Homo sapiens: one gene and its partners. The protein of the gene in region 1 purifies or fractionates together with the protein of each later gene. This does not show direct contact. Each region holds a gene or a part of one and is shown on either strand. Other genes may lie near its edges. The genes, in order: DNAJC6, DLD, PIK3C2A, CLTCL1, BMP2K, CLINT1 and PPP6R3.

Evidence for each region.
Region 2: the proteins of DNAJC6 (region 1) and DLD purify together in Homo sapiens (affinity purification with mass spectrometry, with the first as the bait; one large-scale study listed by BioGRID). This does not show direct contact.
Region 3: the proteins of DNAJC6 (region 1) and PIK3C2A purify together in Homo sapiens (affinity purification with mass spectrometry; one large-scale study listed by BioGRID and IntAct). This does not show direct contact.
Region 4: the proteins of DNAJC6 (region 1) and CLTCL1 purify together in Homo sapiens (affinity purification with mass spectrometry; one large-scale study listed by BioGRID and IntAct). This does not show direct contact.
Region 5: the proteins of DNAJC6 (region 1) and BMP2K purify together in Homo sapiens (affinity purification with mass spectrometry; one large-scale study listed by BioGRID and IntAct). This does not show direct contact.
Region 6: the proteins of DNAJC6 (region 1) and CLINT1 purify together in Homo sapiens (affinity purification with mass spectrometry; one large-scale study listed by BioGRID and IntAct). This does not show direct contact.
Region 7: the proteins of DNAJC6 (region 1) and PPP6R3 purify together in Homo sapiens (affinity purification with mass spectrometry, with the first as the bait; one large-scale study listed by BioGRID). This does not show direct contact.

What each region holds. Positions count from the first base shown.
Region 1 is NC_000001.11:65,389,543-65,393,042, reverse strand, and holds part of DNAJC6 (auxilin), read right to left. Parts: intron 3,497-3,500; coding exon 3,416-3,496; intron 613-3,415; coding exon 178-612; intron 1-177. UniProt on the Homo sapiens protein: May act as a protein phosphatase and/or a lipid phosphatase.
Region 2 is NC_000007.14:107,894,183-107,897,682, forward strand, and holds part of DLD (dihydrolipoyl dehydrogenase, mitochondrial isoform 1 precursor), read left to right. Parts: intron 1-3,500. UniProt on the Homo sapiens protein: Lipoamide dehydrogenase is a component of the glycine cleavage system as well as an E3 component of three alpha-ketoacid dehydrogenase complexes (pyruvate-, alpha-ketoglutarate-, and branched-chain amino acid-dehydrogenase complex).
Region 3 is NC_000011.10:17,162,987-17,166,486, forward strand, and holds part of PIK3C2A (phosphatidylinositol 4-phosphate 3-kinase C2 domain-containing subunit alpha), read right to left. Parts: intron 1-3,500.
Region 4 is NC_000022.11:19,236,220-19,239,719, forward strand, and holds part of CLTCL1 (clathrin heavy chain 2), read right to left. Parts: intron 3,170-3,500; coding exon 3,056-3,169; intron 1-3,055. UniProt on the Homo sapiens protein: Clathrin is the major protein of the polyhedral coat of coated pits and vesicles. Two different adapter protein complexes link the clathrin lattice either to the plasma membrane or to the trans-Golgi network.
Region 5 is NC_000004.12:78,870,350-78,873,849, reverse strand, and holds part of BMP2K (BMP-2-inducible protein kinase), read right to left. Parts: intron 3,068-3,500; coding exon 2,790-3,067; intron 2,001-2,789; coding exon 1,902-2,000; intron 1,237-1,901; coding exon 1,052-1,236; intron 1-1,051. UniProt on the Homo sapiens protein: May be involved in osteoblast differentiation.
Region 6 is NC_000005.10:157,849,146-157,852,645, reverse strand, and holds part of CLINT1 (clathrin interactor 1), read left to right. Parts: intron 1-3,500. UniProt on the Homo sapiens protein: Binds to membranes enriched in phosphatidylinositol 4,5-bisphosphate (PtdIns(4,5)P2). May have a role in transport via clathrin-coated vesicles from the trans-Golgi network to endosomes. Stimulates clathrin assembly.
Region 7 is NC_000011.10:68,568,752-68,572,251, reverse strand, and holds part of PPP6R3 (serine/threonine-protein phosphatase 6 regulatory subunit 3), read right to left. Parts: intron 2,505-3,500; coding exon 2,355-2,504; intron 1,213-2,354; coding exon 1,148-1,212; intron 1-1,147.

The DNA of each region.
Region 1 (3,500 bases):
GGACAATATTTCTATTTTCTCTTACGCTCTCAATTTAAATAAAGATACAGACCTCCTCTAAAGGACTTACAGTGAAATCAGAAAAGTCTAGCTTATTAGGAAAGTTCAATTCCACCTATTTGGCCCAAAGGTTAGAATTCAAATCTGAGAGGCACAGTGCAACATAGAAAAAATTACCTTCTCCCACTCTTAGGGTTGGAGACGCAGAGGTGGAGGTGGCAGAGCGGCGTGGTGTTGACTGGGTAGACGCAGGTCCACTAGGATGAAACACATCTTCCACTCCTGACTGTCCAGCCTGGGTGGGACCAGCTGCACCTCCACCCCCAAACAGGTCACTCAGTAGTTCAGAATTGGTGGGAGGAGCCGCTGGCGGAGAGAAGCTGTTACTCATTGCAGACCCTTCCAGGCCCAAAAGGTCCACATCCTCAGGGGGTGGAGGGGCTGCTGGCTCCTGCTGCTTTTTGCTGGGCTTCTTGACTCCATGAGGCTTGTCACCATTGGCATTGCCATGCGGACTGGAAAGTGTCAGAAGTTCATCATCTGATTGCTCACTTTCCTGATTCACTAGGGCAGCGTGGTCCTCCTCACAGAATGACTTCTCCGATTTCTGATCTGAGGAAGGCCAGTATACCATAAGAGATTAGTTGCTGACCACAGCATTGTTGGTTTTTGTTATAATATATGTATATAATTCCAGAAAGACAGAAGGATTCAGCCCTGAGCAAACAGTGTTTTTAGACCCTAATCAGTGGAACACTTGATGTATTTCACGTTACATTCAACTACCACTTGTTGAGCATCTGAGAGGCAGTAGAGCATAGGGGTAAGGAGCAGGAACTCTGGAGCCAGCCTAGGACTGAATCTCAGCTTCACTACTCACTGGCTCTATGACACTGGGCAAGTTACTTTACTTCTCTGTGCCTTGGTTTCCTCCTCAGCAAAGTGGGGATAACAAATTGTACCTAACGGCCGGGCGTGGTGGTTCACACCTGTAATCCCAGCACTTTAGGAGGCTGAGATAGGATCACTTGAGGTAAGGAGTTTGAAACCAGCTTGGCCAACATGGTGAAAACCCCATCTCTACTAATAATACAAAAATTAGCTGCACATGGTGGCGTGTGCCTGTAATCCCAGCTACTCGGGAGGCTGAGGCATGAGAATTGCTTGAACCCGGGAGGTAGAGGTTGCAATGAGCCAAGATCATGCCATTGTACTCCAGCCTGGGCTACAGAGTGAAACTGTGTCTAAATAAATAAATAGTACCTAACTCACAGGCTACTGTGAGAAATACATGAGATGATATTATAAATCACTCCAATCAATAGTAAGTAGTACCTAAGTGTTGATTTTTTTTTTCAGGCACTATGCTAGGTGCTTTGGCCGGGGAGGGTAGTACAAACCATTATCTGCTAGTCATTTGCTGACACTTCTCACTGTCTTTACTTCTCCATGTGTCCTGTAGCCAAAAGCAAATCCCTTCTCTAACAGTCTGGAGCAGAAGTGAACCACACATTTAAAAAGTGAAAAGAAGAGCTCTGCTGTGAAAGGTCCTTATACCAGCTTGAAAGGGGTACTTTCAGCACAAAATGAGCAGCAGGAAAGAGGCCTCCTCTGGGGAAGGAGTGACCTTCTAAGCCCTCCCTGAGATAGATCTTCCCACAAAAATTTGATATTTAATGCCAGATAGACCCACATTCCAAGTCAAGTATGGATCCACATCCTTTATTCCAAATTATAAAATGTAATAAGCTATGAAAAGGAAAAGATTTTCCTAAGTTTGGCATGAATTCAGTTGGTGGAAAACTGACAGACGTGAATATGAAGATACTTATAGTCTTCATTTATCTCACTTAGGGCTATTGTTTATATGTTCTACTGCAGAAATATTAATATGTTTGATTATAGGTTATTATCTGAGATATCACTTGGGATGTCAAGTTACATCACTTTATGTAGCATATCATCCTTCTAAAATCCAAAAAGTTCTGCATTCCTAAACATACCTGGCTCTGAGAGGTTCAGACAAGAGACTGTGCATCTATACTAAAACCTATTTCAGAGTCTACAGGAATTATCTCTAAATTATTTGCTAAAATGACAGTGGAGAGGAAAGAGTGAAGTTGTATTAAAAGCCCTCGCTGTGAGGAAAATAAGAGGTAAGAAAGGCCAACAGGGGATAAGAAATCTACCTACTGTCCAGATACCACTGGGTTTTCCAAATTTGAGGATTTGCTAGTTCCATTTCTCGAAAGAAAATTCTGAAAGTGAGTCTTTCAATTCAACGGAATTTTATGAACAACTTTTTCATCAAACTGAAGCCTGCAGGCGATGGGAATATTATCTTACATTCACACAACAGAGGAAGGTCAATCAGGATAATTTCAGATAAACCATACCATAGCCAGTTTCCCATGCCTTTCATACCCAAACACTGACTACCCACGTCTACACTGAATCTCACAGTTAGCCTCAGCCAGCTCTAAAGCAAGGATAGCCAATGGGTATTGATTAGGATGCCAACGTCAGGCTACTGCTGGCAGCAGCTGGAAGTGTTATATTGAGGAGGATTCTGAAAATATCTCCAGGTTTGAGAGAAAAGAACCTAGTAATCGAGCCCTTATTTCTGGTATGGCTGTTAAAGCAAGAGCAGAGATATACAGGCCAAGTGTTTGCTTTCTCTGCAGCAGGGTAAGCTCAGTTCTGCCCTGCTAGTGGTTAAGGCTCCCTGGGGGGAATGCTGATTTGATATTTTTATAATATTTAGTTGACAGCGGAAGATAGAATCCTGTGTTAATCTCATTACAGAGGCAGCAGTCTAAAGGGAGATCATAAACAAATCACACTTATTTGTCAGTCCAGGAATGACGTGACCAAAAACACAGCAGAGAGAAGGGAGAATTCAGTTTAAAATGGCCTTTTGCATCAGTCTAAGAGCATCTACTGAGTTGAAAGTAGGGAAGTTGCCTGATTTGAAAAGGGAATGAATTGGAAGGATGTAAACTTGAATGATGTCTTTTAAAAAATTTTTTAGAGATGGAGTTTTGCTCTGTCACCCAGAATGCAGTGCAGTGGCGCAATCATAGCTCACTGCAACCTTGAACTCCTGGGCTCAAGCAGTCTTCCTGCCTTAGCCTCTGACATAGCTAGGACTACAGGCATTTGCCACCACTCCCACCTAATTTTTTAAAATTTTTTGTTGAGATAGGGTCTCACTATATTGCCTGAGCTGGTCTTGAACTCCTGGCCTTCCTATCCTGGCCTTCCAAAGTGCTGGGCTTACAGGTGGGAGTCCGTGTGCCTGGATTGAATGACCTCTAAGTGCTGCTTTAATGTAGTCTGCTTCTAGGGCCAACATCTTTACAGAAGAAATACATAATCATCAAACCATGTGACTTAAAGAAACACTTGTAAATACCTTGCCAACAGAGAGAGGCAAAGAAACCACTTTGTCCGTAATGCCTGGGGTTGTCTGGAGGGATATCTATTGGAGCCTGTCCTGC
Region 2 (3,500 bases), on another chromosome or scaffold:
CCTGTCAGTACCAAGGATATTGATTATTTGCAATGTACTGTTTTGACATTTACTGAATTCACCCATATGGATTATAAGTAACATTGGATGTCTTAAAGCTTCAGTTATAGAAATCATTATCTGGGCAAACTGTGACTATCAGTCTCCCTGCATTCTGTGAAGTAATTTAATCCTGTATCCTCAACTGTTATCCAACCATTATCATTTTGGATATTTTATTTCTAGAGGAAGGGTAGGGGGAGGATTCTAGTAACCCATGACTAACAGTGAGTGAGTGATTTATTCTAGCTTTGAACAGGTCAAGAAATCCTTTTAAAAAAATGCTAATATGATGATGAAGGGAAAAGTTGGACCTCTTATACACTTTGTCTCTTGTTAAATAGGAATCTCATTCTTCTCAACTCATATAACAGGAGAAATGTTAGATTTTCATTTCTAAAGGATATTTTTCATGGCTAACTCTATACCTTTGGCATCACTCAGCAGAGATTATTCAGTGCCTTCTATTTGCCAGGCAGACCCTGAGCCAGAACTTAGATTTTAGTGGAATGAGGCTGAGTGTTCCATAATCAGTTTGGTGATCCCTTGACATTGAGTAAATCATAAATCACTTAGTACCCATGTGTGTAAAGTGTGTAAAAGCTTTGAGTGGATGCAGTAACAAGCATTTTACACACATACTTGTATTTTATCTGAGGTACATGCTTACTGTCTTTTCCTCAGGAATGCAAACTTCATCAGGACAGGGACTGTGTGTGACTGTTTTGTTTAGTATCTAAAGTGATACAGTAGGTAATCAGTACATATTTATTGAATGAATGAACACTGGGGCCTGGTCTGTTTTAATTACTGCTCTGTGGCAAAGCATCCAGTATGGTGTCTTGTACAAAGTAAGTAACCAGCTACAACAGCAATAATATTAACTGATGCATTGAGGGCTTCACTCTGTCTCAGGCACAGATTTAATCCTCATGGCCTTTCTACTACCTGTGTGCTGCTGTTCTCCCCATTTTATAGATGGAAGAGTTAGGTTTTTTAACTAGGAAATGACAGAGCTGGGAGAATCCTTTTGACTTCAGAGCCTACACTGTTAATGTTTTATTGAGTTTTCTTCCTTACATGAGTATTGATTGACTCTCCTGAGGAGTTCAAATCTTATTATGATATAGTCTTGGTTACAACATCTGAGAGATGTCTGAATAGCCTTATGAACCAGGTTCATCAGAATTTGCAAAGTTGTGTGTGTTACTGTTGATGTGACGTTTTATTTCATGACAGCACTTAATCAAACTTGTAACACTTAAACTTACAGCACTTATATCACTCACATTCACTACATTCATTCATTCTTTTATTATTTCGACAAATACTAATATCTACTATGTGTTAGTCATTGGGCTAACTACTGGAGTACCGCAGTGAGCAAGACGGACAAGACCCAGCTTTTATAGAGCTTACAATTCAGTTGAGGGAGACAAACATCCAACATATAATTGTGACAGGGGTCCATAGACTTAAGCATAGGGAGTAATGACATCTATATATGGATTGGGAATGGTCACATAATTCTTTCCTAAGGAATTATGTTGATAGCTAAAAAGGTTGAGAGTAACTCTCGTTACAGGTTGGACCTTTTACTGTAATTCTTTTTTTTATTTAGACTGTAAGAAATAGGGCTATGTCATTTATATATACACACACACAGACACAGCATGTGCAGACACACCCCTCCAAGAGCCTAAAGTAGTGTTTGTAATGTGAAATGCCTGCTGTTAGTGTTTATTTCTAGGTAGATGGAACAGATCGTACATAGGTAGACCAGCATAATTCTATGCATGTAGGCTAAGAGTAGTAATTCACCGTTACTGAAGCTTAAACTGCATGGTATTGGTGAGTAAACAGAACGTGGTAGGAGATGAGGCTGGAGAAATAGTTACTGAAGGAATTTGGATGCTGTACTTAGGAACATGGGCTTTATCTAACAAGACACTGGAGAACCAACAGAGCGTAACAACAGAGAGAATAACATCTGAGTTGGGTTTTAGCTTTGCGGTAGCACTGGGTAGGCTAAAATGGAGGATGTGAATGAGGCTAGAGGCTGCTGGACTGAAGTTTGGAGGTGGATCTGAGAAGGGGAGTGACACTGAGTTGCTAGTATGCACCTAGCACCTCCTTAGGATCTTAACATGCGTACTCTCTGATCCTCACAACCCTAGGCTGCAGGTGTCATCCTTACTATTACCCCCATGTTGTATCAAAGCCCAGAGAGATTGAGTAATTTGCCCAAGAACTTAACGGGGTTAGAGTTTGGAACCCAGGTCTGTTTTACTTCAGATCATTTCTTATTTTACTATATTTCTTCTTTAGGGACCAGGAGGTTATGACTAGAAAGTAGAGTATTGATTTCAGAGGCTGAACAGTTTTGGGTGATAACAAGTATAGAGTGTTAACTATGGGAGGAGGTTACTGAAAAAGACTGGATATTAAGGCCATTGACAATGTAAAAACAACTTCCCTTACCCCTCAACAAAATGTCAACAAATAAACCTTATCAAGTAGTTCTTACATTCAGTAAATTTGGTAATTAATGATTATTGCCTTATGACATCTCTTTTCCTGTTCGTTTTTTCTTTTTAAAAATCTGGTTTTGTTTTTGTTTGTTTTTTTTTTTGAGACAAAGTCTCGCTCTTGTCCCCTAGGCTGGAGTGCAGTGGCGTGATCTTGGCTCACTGCAACTCCACCTCCCGGGTTCAAGTGATTCTCCTGCCTCAGCCTCCCGAGTAGCTGGGATTACAGGTGCCTGCCACCAGCCCGGCTAATTTTTGTATTTTTAGTAGAGATGGGGTTTCACCATGTTGGCCATGCTGGTCTCGAACTCCTGACCTCAGGGGATCCACCCACCTCGGCCTCCCAAAGTGTTGGAATTACAGGCATGAGCCACCGCGCCTGGCCAAAAATCTGATTTTACCTTTATTTTGACATGTGCCTCTTTTTTCTCACTGTGTTTTAAGGTTATTGAAGGTACTGATGAGTCATAAATATTTGATTTCATTCTGTAAAGCATATTCTTGTCATTTTAGTTGAAGTTCTTGATTGTCCTGGAGATTATGGGATCATCTGAGTGTTTTGGAAGGCAATAGAACATAATGGTATATAGGAGCACACATTTCAGAATCTAGAGGACCTTGTTTGAATCCTGGCTAGATTACTTACTAGTTGTGTAGCCTTATGCAAATTATTTAGTTGTTTTCAACCTTTTCTTCCTCTGTTAATGGTAGTATTAAACTATGTCATAGAAATGTAATGAGGCTTACATAAGACAGTACACGTGACTGGCTCACTAACTGGCACATTTTAAGCTACCCAAGTGGTAGGTATTATTGTAGACTGACTTTTTTTTTTTTTTTTTTTTTTGAAACTTGGTCTCACTCTATCATGCAAGCTGGGGTGCAATGGTGCGATCTTGGTTCACTGCAACTTCCACCTCCCGGGTTCAGGAG
Region 3 (3,500 bases), on another chromosome or scaffold:
TTCACAGAAAAAAATATATAAACAAATAGGACTTGTTTGGCCAGGCACGGTGGCCACGCCTATAATCCCAGCACTTGGGGGGACTGAGGCGGGTGGATCACTTGAGGTCAGGAGCTCGAGACCAGCCTAGTCAACATGGTGTAACCCCAACTCTACTAAAAATACAAAAATTAGCAGGGCATGGTGGCATGCACCTGTAGTCCCAGCTACTCGGGAAGCTGAGCCAGGAGAATCACTTGAACCTGGGAGGTGGAGGTTGCAGTGTGCCGAGATCACGCCACTGCACTCCAGAGCCTGGGTGACAGAGCGAGACCCTGTTTCAAAAAAACAAACAAAAACAAACAAACAAATAGGACTTGTTTAATTTTAAGTTTTTCTATGCAATGTATTTTAACTTTCAGCCCTTACTATCAGTTATTCCTTTGTTTTTTAGACACAGGGTCTCATTCTGTAGCCTTGGCTGGAGTACAAGGGCCTTATCATCATAGCTCATTGCAGCCTCAAACTCCTGGGCTTGAGATCCTCCTACTGCAGCTTCTTGAGTAGCTGGGACTACAGAATAGCTGTAGTCCCAGCGTGCATCACCACACACAGCTATTTTTTTTTTCTATAGACACGGGTCTCCCTACATTCCCCAGATTGGTCTCGAATTCTTGGCCTCAAGCAATCCTCCCACCTCGGCCTCCCAAAGCACTGGGTTTACAGGCATGAGCCACCAAACCCACCATTCTACCAGTTGTTTCTATTATAATCTAGCACAGATTGTCATCTAATGTAACACAAAGTAGTATACTTAATATATTTAACGTACTGAAAAAATTAGTATATCAACATTTCATCCTGTTTTATAAGAGCACCATGACTTTCAGGTATTCTACTTCCTGAATTGGTTTGAAAATGTATGTCCAAAATACAAAACCTTAAAAAAAAAAAAAAAGTCCACTTCCTCTTCCACATGGCAACTTCCCAAATTTTAACTATTATTTATGAAAGGATCTAGTCTAGCCAACTTTATTTCATAGATAAAGAAACTCAGATTCAGTGATTTAACTCCAATTAATATTCTCTTCTTCAGACAAAATGCCTCCAACAGTTCCTCAAATGGCATACGTTCTAGATCCTGAAAACTACAGTCTTCTCTTTTCAAGACATACTCTAGGCTGGGCACAATGGCTTACACCACAGGGAGACCTCATCTTCACAAAACCCAAAAAAATTAGCTGGGTGTGGTGGCGTGTACCTATAGTCCCAGCCACTCAGGAGGCTGCATTAGAAGAATCACTTGAGTATGGGAGGTAGAGGCTACAGTGAGCCGTGATCGCACTGCTGCACTCCACCCTAGGTAAAACAGTGTGAGACCCTGTCTTAAAAAAAAAAAAAAAAAAGACAAACTTCAGTTTCCTTACTGGTGGCCCCTCTTAGGATATACTCAAACAAAATTATTAGATGGGGTTTGATTAGAGTATAATGGAATGATGAACACTTCCTCAGCCATGCTGCAGTTAGACTGCCTTAAGACTGGCAAGTAGCCTAAGCCATGTCAGTTCAGATAGCATGCTATCAGTAAAGCTGTTGATATGCTACACTGTAGTAATCTAGCTCCACTCTCTGATTGATCCCCTGATCAAGTCATATTATTGCTTACCCAGTTTCTGACTCATATCTCTCATAATCCATTTGCTTACTACTTTAATCCTTCCCCTATATTTTTTAACTAAGATCTAGGAACTTGTTTCTGCTAAAACTAATCCTGTTTGGCAGCCTAGTTAATTAATTCCTAGAGTTTGAGCAACTAGCAGCTCTCTGTAACACCTATGTGACTTGATTACCCAGATCTTGCTAGGCAAACTTCTTCCTATCTTTAGGAAACCACCCATCCTCATTATTCCTCCAAGATACTTTCTGAAAGCACCCCAAATAAGGAAAATATCAAGATGGTACTGTGACAAATATTTTAAATACATAAGAAAAAATAAATGTAGGGAGACTTACATGGGTGTCACACCCCTGCCCCACCAAAGGAAAGGGTGGAGAACACATGTGTTGAACTAGGAGTGACCAATCTAAACTAAAAAGGTCAAGCAGGGGCAGGAAGTTGAGTTTCGCAATGAAAGCATTAACAACCTGTGCTTTGGGTTTTGAGCTGAAAAGAAACTGTTCCCAGGGTACTCTATTTTCACATTTGCTATTTGTCTTGTCATTTTCCCAACTTTATAGGCTCCTGAGTATGAATAAACTTTAAAATAACCTAGTCAAGAGGTCCCAAATGGAGGTCCAAGGGGGAAAGTTTTGAAAAAACTGGTTATCTTCCCCCTGAAATTCCATACTGTCCTTTGACACCCCTTCCTCCAAATCAGGACTGAGTAGGCCTAAACTCTCTAGGATACTGTGACATATAACTAAATTTGGGAAGCCATTTGAACCATATTTGAATATCTCCTATGACAGGGAACTTACTCCTTCCAAAATAGCATGTTGTATCACTGGAGTTTGAAAAAGGGAGGGCTGGCAGACCTTGGTGGCTCACGCCTGTAATCCCAGCACGTTGGAAGGCTGAGGCAGGCAGATCACCTGAGGTCGGGAGTTTGAGACCAATCTGACCAACATGGAGAAACCGCGTCTCTACTAAAAATACAAAATTAGCCGGTCGTGGTGGTGCATGACTGTAATCCCAGCTACTCGGGAGGCTGAGGCAATAGAATCGCTTGAACCCAGCAGGCAGAGGTTGCGGTGAGCTGAGATCACGCAATTGCACTCCAGCCTGGGCAACAAGAGAGAAACTGTCTCAAAAAAGTGAAAAAAAAAAAAAAAAAAAAAAAAAAGGGAGGGCTTTTAGAGTCAGATGGGTTTGAATGTCAGAACTTTGCTGCTTGCAAAGAGTTCTGCAGCCCTCTCCTTGACCTCCAACTTGTTATCATGAAAATTTTCAAATATACACAAAGTAAATAATAGAATAAACACCCAGGTATCCATCATCGGCTTCAACAATTATCAACATATAGCCAATCTTGTTTCATCTATAAGCCCTCCAAACCCCAATACCTCACTTGATTTTACTACATTTTAAATTCTACAGTATACATCTCTAAATATAAGATTCATTTAATTAATTGCAATACCATTATTACACCAAAATATTAACAGTAATTCCTTTTAACTTCTTTACATCTCAGTTTCCTCAACTGTAAAATAGGGATGGGTCATACTCTGGCCTCATAGGATTCTTGTGAGCTTTCTGTCTCAGTGATTAAAAAAAAAATGCAGAAGAGTCCTTTGGCTTTGGCAACATATTGGTAAAAATAATAATAAATAAAGAGTTCGGTTTGAGTATGTACAACATAGATAAAAAGCATGTAAGTTCTTGGGTTCCGAATCCCAGTCTTGGAGCTTTGGACAGTAAATAACCCACCTACCCAGAAACCTCAACTTGCTTAAGATGATGACTACATTGCATCTGGAATGGTAATATCAGCTTAGCTGGGATAATCTATTTCTCTCAG
Region 4 (3,500 bases), on another chromosome or scaffold:
AGTTTTAAAGACAATATTTTGTCCAACCACTCTCAAATAAAGGTCCAATAAACTCAGGCTACTCCATTTATCTTTCAGGTAGAGCGATCCTTTCACAGTTTATCGAACCCCTTTAAGCAAGCTGTGAGTTCATAAGAGAAGGGGAAAGTTCTGGACAAAGACCTCAAACGCCAAGATGATGTTCCAGCATGCCTTCTACCACCACTTATTAACCTTTGAGTTTTGCCAAATGCTATTAACTTTTACAGAAAAATATTTAACACACAAGAAAACCTGAAGGGGCTGGGGAGAAAAAACAGATGCATTTGCCCAACCAGATTATTAAACATATATATTAAAACAGACAGTAATTTTTGAAGTATGATTTTACCACTGGAAGAGACAGAGAGAGAAAATAATTAAGAGCCCTGAAAGAGAATGAATCATATATGAGAATTTATTAAGAATGAGTGTGTGGTGGCTAATGACTATAGTCCCAGCTACTTGGGAAGCCAAGGCAGGAGGATCACTTGAGCCCAGGAGTTTGAGTCAAACCTGGGCAACGTAGCAAGACTCCAACTCTAGAAAAATAAATAATTAGTAGGTAACATATTAGTGGAAAATAGGCACTTTAATCAATATATAACATATATTATTAATATAGTTAGCTAGCTATCTGGAGATGGAGGTAAGAGTAAAGAACTGAATTTCTATCTTACTCTTTAGATCAAAGTAAATTCCAGATGGGTCAAAGATTTTAAATAAAAAACAAGGACAATTAGGATAGGAATGAAAGAAAATATAGGTAAATGTTGTGATCATCTTCAGGTGCAGAATTAGTCTCAAAACATGATACCACTGCCACACAAAAATGCAGCACTTCCATAAGGTGCCACATATCACAAATTACGACTGGGAAAAATATTCAAAATACATCAGACACTTAGTACTCTACAAGTACAAAAAGCTCTTACGAATAAGGTAAAAATCCTGGAGTTGGGCACAGTGACACACACCTGTAACCCCAGCTGCTTGGGAGGCTGAGGCAGGAAGATCGCTCGAGGCCAGGAGTTCAAGACTGGCCTAGGCAACATAGCAAGACCCCATCTCTACTTTTTAAAAAAAGATCCCAATAGAAAAAAAATGCAAAGATTAGGAAAAGGCAATTAACCGGATACATATGAGTGGCTGATACATCAATTCTGCCTTGATGGTAACCAAGGGAAAGACATCACAACATGGGATGCTGTCCAGCTACCACCGGCAGCATCAGTAGGAATGTGAACTGGCCAGCATGGTCAGGAGAGTCTGTGATGAGAGTGTGCCCCTGACCCAGCAGTTTAATTTCTAGGAATTTATCCTCGGACTTTTAGACTAACATACAAAGATGTATGGAGCACAATGTTCCTTATAGTGTTTCTTGTAAATGTAAATACCAATCAACAGGGGATTGTTTAAATGAGTTGTAGCAAATCCACAGAACAGATGACACAGACAATAAAATACATACATTATGTTACTGGAACAGAATGATCTACAACATAGCTAGAGGAGTTTATACAGCAGCAAGGCTAGTGCAGAGCCATTTTCATAAGAGTCCATCTGTATAAATCTGCACAAATGTATGCATGTTAAGTTACTTCCAAAGGGGTAGCCAAATTATCAGCAGTGCTAGGATTTCAGGTGATATTTAATCCTGCTGTTACATTTATTGATATTATTAGAAATGTACAGATAACATATATTTTATGAGAACAAAAGAGTAAAAAGGAGAGTAGATTATATAATCTTACATATATAATGTGATGCCAATTTTGTTCAGAAAAGGTATAGATCTAAATTTTTTATAAAACAAATTGTAAGATTTTTTATTTTTATTCTTATTTATTTATTTATTTATTTTTTGGAAATGAAGTCTTGCTCCAGGCCGCGGTGCAGTGGCATGCAGTGGTGTGATCTTGCCTCACTGCACTCTCTGCCTCCTGGGTTCTAGAAATTCTCCTGCCTCAGCATCCCATGTAGCTGGGACTACAGGTGCACACCGCCATGCCCAGTTAATTTTTTATATTTTAGTAGAGACGGGGTTTCACCATGTTGCCCAGGCTGGCGTCGAACTCCTGAGCTCAGGCAATCTGCCCGCCTCGGCCTCCCAAAGTGCTAAGATGACAGGTGTGAGCCAACGCGCCCGGCCAAGATTTCTTATATATTTTACATCCAACTGGTTTATCTACAGAGGAATGTTTTCTGACTCTGTGCCTTTGACACTTCCACAACAATATTCTGCTCCTCAATAAGGAAAGCACACTTGATCCTGTCACGAACACACTTAGCACACACGGAACCACCACAGGCCCTGCTGACATGTGTTTCTGTTTTAGGGAACCTCACAAGAACTTCAGGTCTCATAGCACGAACTCCTCGAAGTCTGGCTAGGCACATGCCACATGCAGGTTCAGGTGTTTTCCCAACCTTCTTGATGTAAAGGTGAATAATTCTCCCACCAGGGGCTTGGGACTACCTAGTTTCACTAGAGGCTGCGTGTCAAAGGCTGGGCCATTCTGAATGCCAGCTCAAAGGACTGTCCCTGGGAGCTCTAGGCTCCCTCAATGGCAGCCAATTGTAAAGGAAATAAGTGTTTTATTCTTTTTTTTATTATTATAAGTTCTGGGTTACATGTGCAGAACGTGCAGTTTTGTTACACAGGTATACACGTGCCCTGGTGGTTTGTTGCACCCATTAACCCGTCACCTACATTAGGTATTTTATTCTTTAAATATTCTCATACCACAGTGAACATCTAATCTTTTATAATAAGAAGGAAAGAGCTGAGGACTTTGATGTGTGACTTGGCAACGTCTTCCTGCTGCCCTAACTCACCCTCATGCCGGGCATTCCTTTCTACGAACAGGGCTTTCCCAGCTCACACGCCAAAGCCTTAGGCCTCTAAATGGGTTTGAAAGCATCACAGTGGCAGGAGACAGCAGAAGCAGACTAAAAATGGCAGCCTCCTGTATCTTGGGAGGTGCTAGAGTAGATTTTAGGACATGAAGATGTTTAGAGAGCAGCACATTCGTACCTGCATAGCCACTGGAAAATCATTCTGTGCCTCTGGAGGAAAAAACACATCTACTGCTTTCTTTACAAAAGGTTGGTTTCCCGCTGCAGGCTGTCCAACTTCAATGATGTGCAACTAGAAGAGAGATTTTAGGTCAATCAAGGGGACCGCCTGTGGTGGTGGGCAAGTGCTAGTCAAGGCACAGAGGCAAGTGGAGCCTCAGCTCCACACACTGGATGATTAACGCTAAAAGTCACATTCAACCAAAGCAGAACAACCCCCTTGTCGGAGTGCCTGTGATTATCCAATAACCTGCTGCCCACCACCAAGCATGGCACAAAGGGCCAATGCCAGGCAGCCTGGAGCCTCAGTTCCAGCACAGTGGCAGAGTCACTTCCCCTCCCCGGGCCTGGATGCCGATGAAACAAAGGGCTCCAGTCAGAATCTGCTGTCCCTTCCAACTCTG
Region 5 (3,500 bases), on another chromosome or scaffold:
TAGACAAAATTGTCCTAATTCATCCACCCCAATTCTTACTTTAGAAAAGTAGTTCAAGAAATCCATTCGTTTCTGTCTCCCTCTCTACCATACCCGCCCCACCATCTGTCTCTTGCACATGTGCACACACATGCATGCATGCATACACACACACACACACACACACACACACACACACACACACACACACAGAGGTTGGGAGGCATTCTATAGCAAACTGCATACTTTAGCTCTCTTTTGAGATGCAGTGTACAAGTATGCTACTGATGCTGCTGTTTCTCCTGCTCAACTCTGAGCCAAAGCTTATAGACACCTTTTCTCAGCTAATGTTTCAAATCCTTAAACAGCATTGTATGAGAACTTCAGTGTTCATGTAACAGAAGTCTAACAGCTCCTACCTCCTAGGTATCTAAAAACATTAGGAGGCATTGATGATGATTCTTAGTTACAAGATGCTAAAGCACGTGCCATTTTGTATAAGTTTAAGAAATTTTGTACCAAAGTTATTTAATTTATAACGCTACTAACCAATATGTCTCAATAGCCAAAATATACTATTACCAACTATGTTACGGTAACAGTATGTATACTATATATCATCTTAAAATACATATATGTAAAAATGTTTATACCTATTTAAATTAAATTATACAACCTTTATGAGTAAACAGTAAAATTAATCAAAGGTAATAACATGTAAATAGAGAAAGTCTACAAGGATTTTTTTTTAACTGCTGAAGTCACTTGTTAGGGTGTTGTTTATACTTACATTACCAAAAATGCCTTTACATACAAGCCAATAATATCCTTAGCCCTAAATGCTGTTAGATGTTGCTACACCTTACCTACAAATAGCAGTTAGCAGAATTAACTGAGGAAACGGAAGGATGGGGATGCCAAGGGACCAGAAGACAGGACTAGGAAGAGAGAATGGGTGGCTCTACAGAAAGATAAATTCTAAACTAATTTAAGAGAACTTAATGACCGACCATTCAACGATGACTTCCACTTCCACAATAATTTCCTTTGCTTTCACTGGAAAAATACTTGCCTATTGGCACTATAGGAGGAGTCCATTATGGTTCCAACCTGAGCTGGAAGTGATGAAGTGTAGGAAACTAAGGCTGGTGAGAACTCTTGAGGGGAGGTAAGATATTCAGGTGATGCCTGTTGTTGAGACGGCTGATGTTGAGCTAGCATCTGCTGTTGAAAGAAAGCCTGCTGATACTGCGGCATCTGAAAAAAGAAATGATATTATACAAAACAATGCTCCAGTCCTAAAGCACTGTCAGCACTGCATCTATTTACTATGTTCCTTCCTTTCACATTGGTGACAAAATCAGAAACGTAAAAAACAATCATCTACAGAAGCAGCTCTATTACTAGAAAACTACAGCAAGATGAAATAAATCTTTTTAAAAAGTTGTAAAGGTAGGCTCACTTGGCCAGAATCAAAAATCCTCTTTTAAGTATTTTAAGAAAAAGAGTAGCTTAAAGTCACTAATATAGTGGTTGCTGTTAAAAAAAAAAAAAAAAAAAAAAAAAAGGTCAAATTATTCTCTGAAGAAAATATACTCTCCCTTTGGGTTTCATTTTTTTACTCAATAGATATGTGCTGAATGAAAGAGACATGTGACGAAAGACTATAGGTAAGACATCATTTCCCTTATATAATGACATAAGAGAAGTACGTTATCGGTCAATTACTATGTGCCATATTCAGGTGCCATAGTTCAGTGCAATTTAAAGCTGCTTGAGAATATATGACTGGCTTTGATAAAATACATGTCAATTAACTTACTTGATTTTGAATTACTAAATTCTGAATAATATGATTCATACTGTGAATTCCAACACCATAATGTATACTCAGAGAAATCTCTAGAAATTATTTAAGTTACCATTGTAGGATACTGTGATGCAGAAGGTTGTGGTTGATATACCGAATGCATTAAAAATTGTTGTTGAAGCATCTGTTGCTGCTGTGTTGCATGTTGATACTACAACGAGAAAATCAAATTAATAAATGTTATGCCTTTTTTGTGTCAGAGCCCTTTTTTAAAGTATTGATCTTACCATAATGATTTGAGAAATCAGTAGTCCAAACATCAATACAAAATAGCTATACTCTAAATTACTATAATTTATTAATAAATATGCTTATCAGAACTGGTTTCAAAATTATCAACAATTAGATTCAATTAAAACCATTTTTAGCACAATTTAAGGATGTTTAGAAGAAAGCTACCAAAACACATTTACTACCTTTTCCTAGAAGATAAAGACACCTGAGTGACTTCTAACCAAGCCCCATTACACTAAATCTCCCCTTCAGTGGTGTCTTCTGGGCATCCCATGGTACCACCTACTTACTACCCTCCACTCTGGATCTATCAACCAAAACCAGGAGGGTGACAAAAATCTAAGACAATGTTACTTCTGAAAAGCCTAATATCACCTTTCCAACAATAGCATTATTAGTCTGTGAACTCAAAACGTAACCTCAGATAATATTCATTATAAACTGCAGTGCTTATTTGTGAATACTAAATGTTTCAGATGAACATTCTTTTCTTCATAAGGCCACAATGCAACCTATTTTACAGTATTCTTAAGTATTTCACTGATTGCAAATTAAATACGTATTCTTTCATAATTAGAAAATTGGGGAAAGTGTTTACTCAAATCTAGAGTTCAAGGTGCCCATGATACAAAAAGGAATTCACTGATATTCAATTTGCTGCATCAATTTCACACTACTTCCATATCTAAAGAAACAAAAAAATTACCTGCTGCATATAAGCATCTTGAAGTAGGTGGTGGTGGTGGTGGTGGTGGTGCTGCTGCTGCTGCTGCTGCTGCTGCTGTTGCTGTTGCTGCTGCTGCTGTTGCTGTTGCTGCTGCTGCTGCTGCTGCTGCTGGTGAGGATGACGATGCTGTAAATGGAGTTGCTGTAATCTCCAATCTCCCTGCTGTAGTTGCTGGAGTACTCTATGCTGCTGTGGCGGCTGCTGAGGAGGTCCCTGACCCAATAAAATTTCAGGGCCATTTCCAGGTCTTAGTGCCCCTAAAGACAGGTCCAAACACTTACATTAACATACTAATGATTTCAATTAAAAAGCTGGATTTCAACATGCTCATTTCAATAATAATTTAACTAAGGCATTTATATCCTTATTTATAACACAAAAACTTCCATATGCATAGAGTTTATAGGGATTTACTTTAATTGTAAGTACCGAAGAAGCTTAATTTTGTCGTCTACAACTCTGAACAAGTCAACATCTTAGAAACACTTCATGTTTCATACTTCGGCTCTCCATGAACACAACATCCATGTTAGTTTGTTCTACACTGCTCAACAATATCATGTACTATCATGAGTATGTATTAGTACCAATATAATTCTCTGTCTAGAATGCCACTTTCCACCTAGTGAAATTCTTATTCTTTAAAGTTTAGCTCAAACCTCTCTTCCTTATTCCTTCATCTAGCACTTC
Region 6 (3,500 bases), on another chromosome or scaffold:
ATAGAGATGATATTTTATAGGATTATGAGGATTAAATGTGAAACAGTATAGTACTTGACATACAGTAAACTCTTGAAACATCTATTACTGTTATTACTGTTACACACAAAACAGTATAACACTAGAAAAATCAAAGGAATACAGTGTTTGTGAAAATAGAGATATCATTGTCAGACTAGGTTATTTGTAAGTATGTAGGAACTATATCTTCATCCATGAAATCATTATTTTCAGTGAGTACTCTCTCTTAAGACTCAGTTTAGCCTACATATAGGACAGCTAATTTAAATACCTCTGTTGTTTATGCCTTGTATTATTTTTGCTAAATCATAAATGGCTTCTACTTTAATATTGCAAAGCATATTGCAGAAATACCCTTTCAAAAGACATGTTGAGGAATAAAGTCTTTGGAAAGACATATCGCGAATTCCATCTGCCAATTCTTAATATTTTGTTCAGCTTGTTTTGTGTATTCTCAAGATTTTAAAGTAACTGCTAATGTAAAACATTACTAAAACATAAAAAGATTTATTTCATAAATGCAAATTGAAGCAGACAATTTATTCTTAAGAGACTGAACAATATCAAGAAAAAGAATCCTCTAAAATATGTGATACCAAATTCATGGTGTTTGACAATGGACAAACAGTATATACAAGGAAAGCACATTGGAGAAAGGGCTTTCTGGTTATTCAACCCCTCAAATTGGCAAGAAATTATTTGGCTTACCAGGGCTCTTTTGCCTGAAAATTAAATACAGGTAAAGGAACGTAATATATTCCTATGTTTGAGCCAATTTATAGCTACTTATTACTTGTGGATAGATTTAGCTAACGAATTATTAAATGTGAGTGATTTTGTTAATGTGCAACAGTGCACATGAATGGTTTGTACTTCATTTAAGAAGAGTCTAGTTAGCCAATTTTAGAATATTTCATTTCTTTTTTTTTTTTTTTTTTGAGACGGGGTCTTGCTCTGTCACTCAGGCTGGAGTGTAATGGTGCCATCTCTGCTTCAGCCTCCTAGGTTTAAGCGATCCTCCCAAGTAGCTTAAGCGATCCTCCCAAGTAGCTGGGACGACAGACACATGTCACAACACCCAGCTAATTTTTGTATTTTGGTAGAAATGGAGTTTTGCCGCATTTCCCAGGCTGGTCTCGAACTCCTGAGCTCAAGCAATCTACCCACCGTGGCCTCCCAAAATGCTGGAATTGCAGGTGTGAGCCACTGTGCCTGGCCTAGAATATTTGTTTTGACATGAATTTTATTTAGCTTCTCAATTCTTAGGACAGTATTTAAGTTCTAGATAACTTTAATATAAATAATCTTTTATAATTTTGCACACACTCATCATTATGTGGTAAACGTACATGCGTGCTTTTTCAACAACTATTGAATGAAATGTTTCATTCAAGAATTCTCATTCAAATAGCTTATATTTTTATAGTAGAAAAAAGGCATGCATTGAAAATTCAATTTTCGGGTTTTTTGTTTGTTTGTTTGTTTGCCATTTGTTTTCATGCATTTTTAGTAAATCATTAAAGAACAGTGCAAGGCCAGGTGCCGTGGCTCACAACTGTAATCCCAACACTTTGGGAGGCCGAGAAGGGAAGATCTCTTGAGCCCAGTAGTCCAAGACTAGCCTGGGCAACACAGACCTTGTCTCTACAAAAAAATTAAAAAATTAGCCGGACATGGTGATGCATGCCTATAGTCCCAGCTACATGGGAGGCTGAAATGGGAGGATCACTTGAACCCAGGAGTTGAAAGCTGCAGTGAGCTGTGATTGTGCCACTGCACTCTAGCCTGGGCAACAGAGTGAAACTTTGTCTCTAAAAAAATTTTTTTTAATATTAAAAAAAAGAACAATGCTAATAGGCATACTGAGCCTTTTTCTATTAATTTTTCTCATACTAATTTTTCATTTATCACTTTTTAAAGTGACTTAGGTTATACGGTTGAAACTACATGTCTTAATTTGTAGTTAAACCCCCATGGTTAAATAATTTTTTTTTTTTTTTTTTTTTTTTTTTGAGACAGGGTCTCACTTGTACCCAGGCTGGAGCGCAGTGGCATGCACGATCTTGACTCACTGCAGCCTTGACCTCCTGGGCTCAATCCATCCTCCCACCTTAGTCCCCCAAGTAAGAGGGACTACAGGTGCTTACCACCATGCCCGGCTAATTTTTTGTAGAGATAGGGTTTCATCATGCTCCCCAGGCTGGGCTCAAACTCTTGAGCTCAGGCAATCCGCCCGCCTCAAGCCTCCCAAAGTGCTAGGATTATAGGCGTGAGCCACTGTGCCCAGCCAGTAATATCCTTAGTTTGATGTATTTGGCTTATAAGTTCGGTACTGAATGGGGCTTTGAAGGATGGCCTGTTTCTCACTAAGCATGTAAAATGTTTAGCCCTGTCATCTGCTGTCCACTCAGCAGCGAGAGGGATTCTTTAAAAATACTAAGTCAAATGGGTTCAGAATTCTCCAGTGGCTTCTCATCTCATTGCTTAATTGCCTGTACAGATCTGGCTCTTTGTTGCCCCGCCTGTGATCTCTTCTCCCACCACTGTCCCTCACTTTCTCTGTTCTGTTCAGTGGACCTCCTGTATTACATAGTATGCACTCACACTCGTCACTATTTTTTTCTGTGCTTGCCTTCCTCTGTTACATGTATTCATCTCCTGCCTCTGATATGCAAGTTCCTTGAGGGCAGGAACTTTGTTTTGTTTACTGCTGTATTACTAACTCTTAGAACAATTATGACACATAGTAGGCGCTCAAATATTTTTGAATGAATACATTAAATTTGGTAAGTTGATATTTATTACAGAGGATATCCTTTAAATCCAGATATTTCTAATAATAAAAGCTAATAGTTATTGAGCATTTGCCATGTGCCAAGAACAAAGGTGACAACATTGTTATGTTCAATTTTCTTATGAGGAAATTGGGCACAGAATGCCAAGAGTGTGCCACAGATAGCACATCTAGAAGATAGTCTAGATTTAAATCTAGATGATATACTTTCAGAATATGTATTTAGCAGTTTATGCTAATCTTTTACAAGACATCATGTAAACAAAAAAATTGTTATACAGGCATACCTCAGAGATATTACAGGTTTAGTTCCAAACCACTGCAATAAAGTGAATATTGGAATAAAGCAAGTCATACAAATTTTTAGTTTCCCAGTTCATATAAAAGTTATGTTTCCACTATGTGGTAGTCTATTAAATGCACAATGGTATTATGTTTAAAAAAGTACATACCTTAATTTAAAAATATCTTATTGCTAAAAAGTACAGCCATCTGAGCTTTCAGCAGGTATTTATCATTCTGCTGGTGGAAAATCTTGCCTCCATGTTGATGGCTGCTGACTTATCAGGGTTGTGGGATTGCTGAAGTTTGGGGTGGCTGTGGCAATTTCTTAAAATAACAATGAAGTTTTCTGCATCATAGATTCTTCCTTTCACAGATGATTTCTCTGTAGCATGCAATGCTG
Region 7 (3,500 bases), on another chromosome or scaffold:
CAAGAAGACTGGAGGTTGGGAAGGACACAGAGAAGCCAAGACGGAGTCAGACATATAACCAGAGATGTCAACTGGGCCACAAACAGCATCTCCAAAGAGCTCCATTTGGAAGAATGTATCTGAGGTCTACCAATACTAGCCCCTTGCCACAAACAAACAAACAAAATGCCAATTTCCCACATGAAGCCAAATCAAAACCCTAGTAGCAGTGCTTATTAAACGATTTAAAAAAAAAAAATCAAACCTCACAAAGTAAGGCTGACTCCCAAGAGTCATCTAGCTTTCCTGGAGACACAGAGACACATAACAAGAATGCTGGGAAATGATCAACTACAAAGGACCATGAGAGAAATTTTGGGGGTGACAGAAATGTCTTGATTGTGGTGATGGTGACTTCAGGCATCAGTCAGAATTCCTAGGAATGTACACCTAAAATGAGCTTTACCATATGAGAATTATATCTCAATAAACCTGTCTTAAAAACAAACACAGAAGCATGCCTTCAGAGTGTTTCCCAAACACGCCCTTATGCCACCATGCTTCAGAATCTACGGGGTGACATAAAGGCTTCCAGGGCACTAGAGAGGAATGCTGTTACAGACAACACCTGTAAGAAAACGTTTTGTGTAACAAAGCTACTTACATGTATCAACTAATACTTCACATAACCTTGCCAATCAGCTAACAAACATTTTCTAAAAAGAAAACACTGAGCAATTTTTTTCCTCTAGGTCCCTGTACAAAGCAACTCTTCTCTACAATGAAAATATGTACGTGATACCTTCTGTTCTGAGCATAAGGTGACCAGGACAAATACACTAAGTCACATCATCAAGGACTTAACTTTAACCTTATAACTCTTAGAACAGTAGCCATTCAAAAAGGACCAGGAAGTTTCAAAGGCAGCACAGAGGTGGGGAACACTCCGAACTCACTTGTTTTGCCCCAAAAACAAGAGGACCTAACAAGAAATTATTAGTATTATAAAAACAACTGTTACAATGAAATAATCTGGGGAAAAGTTTAAATTGTAAAATGGCCAGTATCATGTAATTATTTCCATTTTTTTCTGACTAGGGCAAGGAGGTATTATTTTCCTCATATTACCAACCAAACTGAATTCCTTTCAAAAAAACAATTTACTTACTGTTTCTTCTCATTCATTTCCCAGGCTTCAAGTATTCGTTCTATTAATTGACATTTTTGGAAAAGCTGAAAAAAAAAAAAAGAATATTCCAGTTAATACTTCAAAGCATCAAAACTTTAAAGTGAAACAGAACTCTAGGTTAAAGAGAATAGTAGTATGCATAATCTAGCAAGCTAAATGTTACTAAGCCAAATGCAATGTGATCATCAATCTACTGCAGACACCCACAACACTACAGAGATTCAAATCAGGATCCACACCCTCCACAGAACATCTACAGGAAACTCAGTATTATAGGTAGTGCAGTTAACTACCTATAGTTAACTATAAAGGAAAGCCAGGTTTTATTAGCTGTGAAAATTCAGAACAGAAATATAAAACCTGAGCTAAATTAAAATGGAATAAAGAAAACTATGCCTTGGCAAAAATTTAACTTAGAATCCAAAGTAATGCTTGTACTTTTAAAATGTGAGCACGTCTTACTTCCAGATGAACTAACATTACTGCATTAATATTAAAAACAGGTGGGTTTTGCCCAAAGTCTGCAAGTCAGTGACAACTGCTGTAGGCTGCAATACTGGAATGTGCAGGGCTAGTTCTTCTCAGGTGTCATTTGTCTTTCCCATCAACTTGGCTGTTCCAAGCTAGCCTTTTCTACATTTTAGGTTTGCGAGTAAACCAAGTGTGGGCTAGAAATTTTAAAAGTACCATAGAACTACCAAGCAAGAAAAAATCTGAAGACTGACTTAGTAAAATTATCTCATATTTGACAGAAGAGAAAAAGAGACCCCAGGAAGACTCTCAACATCACAAAGAACTCAGTTCTCCTGACTTTCAGTCACGTATTCAGCAAAGAAACTACACTCTGGTCAGCCAAATAATAGTGCAAATGTTTTCCATAGTATTTAAATTTCTATGATTCTTCAAATCATCAAAGAATTTATATATCTTCAAACCTATTAATTTTACCAAATAAGGAGGCCACTTAGCTTTTTTCTTACAAGACTGTTCATTTAATAGTTATTTGTCCAGTACTTGATTTATATAATGATTTATATGTTAAAAGTGAAACGAACACATGATTGTCAAATATTTAGACTCTGAAATCTAACCTCAAGCCCTTTAAACCTCAATTCACATCACAGTCAAGTGGAAAACTGCTATAACCAGGAGAGAGTGGGAGAAAAACGAGACCAAATAAGCTTACATGTTTTAATAACAAATTATCACCAGTGGAGTCTTGATCGGTAATTGTGGCATTTTCTGTGTTTTCAAAAGGACTTGCAAGAATCAGTGCAATACAAATTTCCACTTGTGTATGCAAAAAGTTATTCCATGTATACTTGAAGAACATGTTCTACAAAAAAGAAAAACCATGTTTTATTCGGTTACCTCAATGTTTAAGCCAATACTTAAATACATTTACAGAACAGTGATTTAATAAAGTAAAAATGATGTGCTCTCAGTCCAAAAGGACCAATTAAAAGGAACCTGAGTTCACATTAGTACTTGCATAACCACAGTTTCATTTTCTGTGGTTTCAGTTACCCACAGTCAACCATGATCTGAAAATAGGTGAGTATAATACAGTAAGACATGCTAATCCAAGAGATGACATTCACATAACATTCATTACAGTATAGATTTATAATTGTTCTACTTTATTATTAGTTATTATTAATCTCTTCCTGTGCTTAATTTATAAATTAAACTTTGTCACAGGTATGTATAGGAAAAACACATAGTATATATAGGGTTCGATAGCTGTGGTTTCAGGCATCCAAAGGAGTCTTGGAAGGTATCCCTCATAAATAACGAGGACTAAATGGGGATGTGAAGTATTGCTTTAGAGCCTAAATGGCGTGCTATCTGCTTATCTGACATGCCAGAACTGGTATGGAATCTAGTAAAAAACCAACAACAAACATACAAAGACAAGAGTACGTTTCTCCAAGAGAAAGGGAGTATCTTTTTTCTCTTCAAAGCAACTAACACAAATAGTTAGCGTGGTAAATTTTCTATAATTTTCAAAAAAATTTATAAGAGGCCAGGCGTGGTGGCTCATGCCTGTAATCTCTGCACTCTGGGAGGCCGAGGCGGGCGGATCACGAGGTCAGGAGATCAAGACCATCCTAACACGGTGAAACCCCGTCTCTACTAAAAATACAAAAAAATCGCTGGGTGTGGTGGCGGGCGCCTGTGGCCCCAGCTACTCAGGAGGCTGAGGCAGGAGAATGGCGTGAACCCAGGAGGCGGAGCTTGCAGTGAGCCAAGATCACTGCACTCCAGCCTGGGCGACTGAGCCAGACTCCATCTCAAAAAAAAAAAAAAATTGTAAGAATTTCATTTTGAT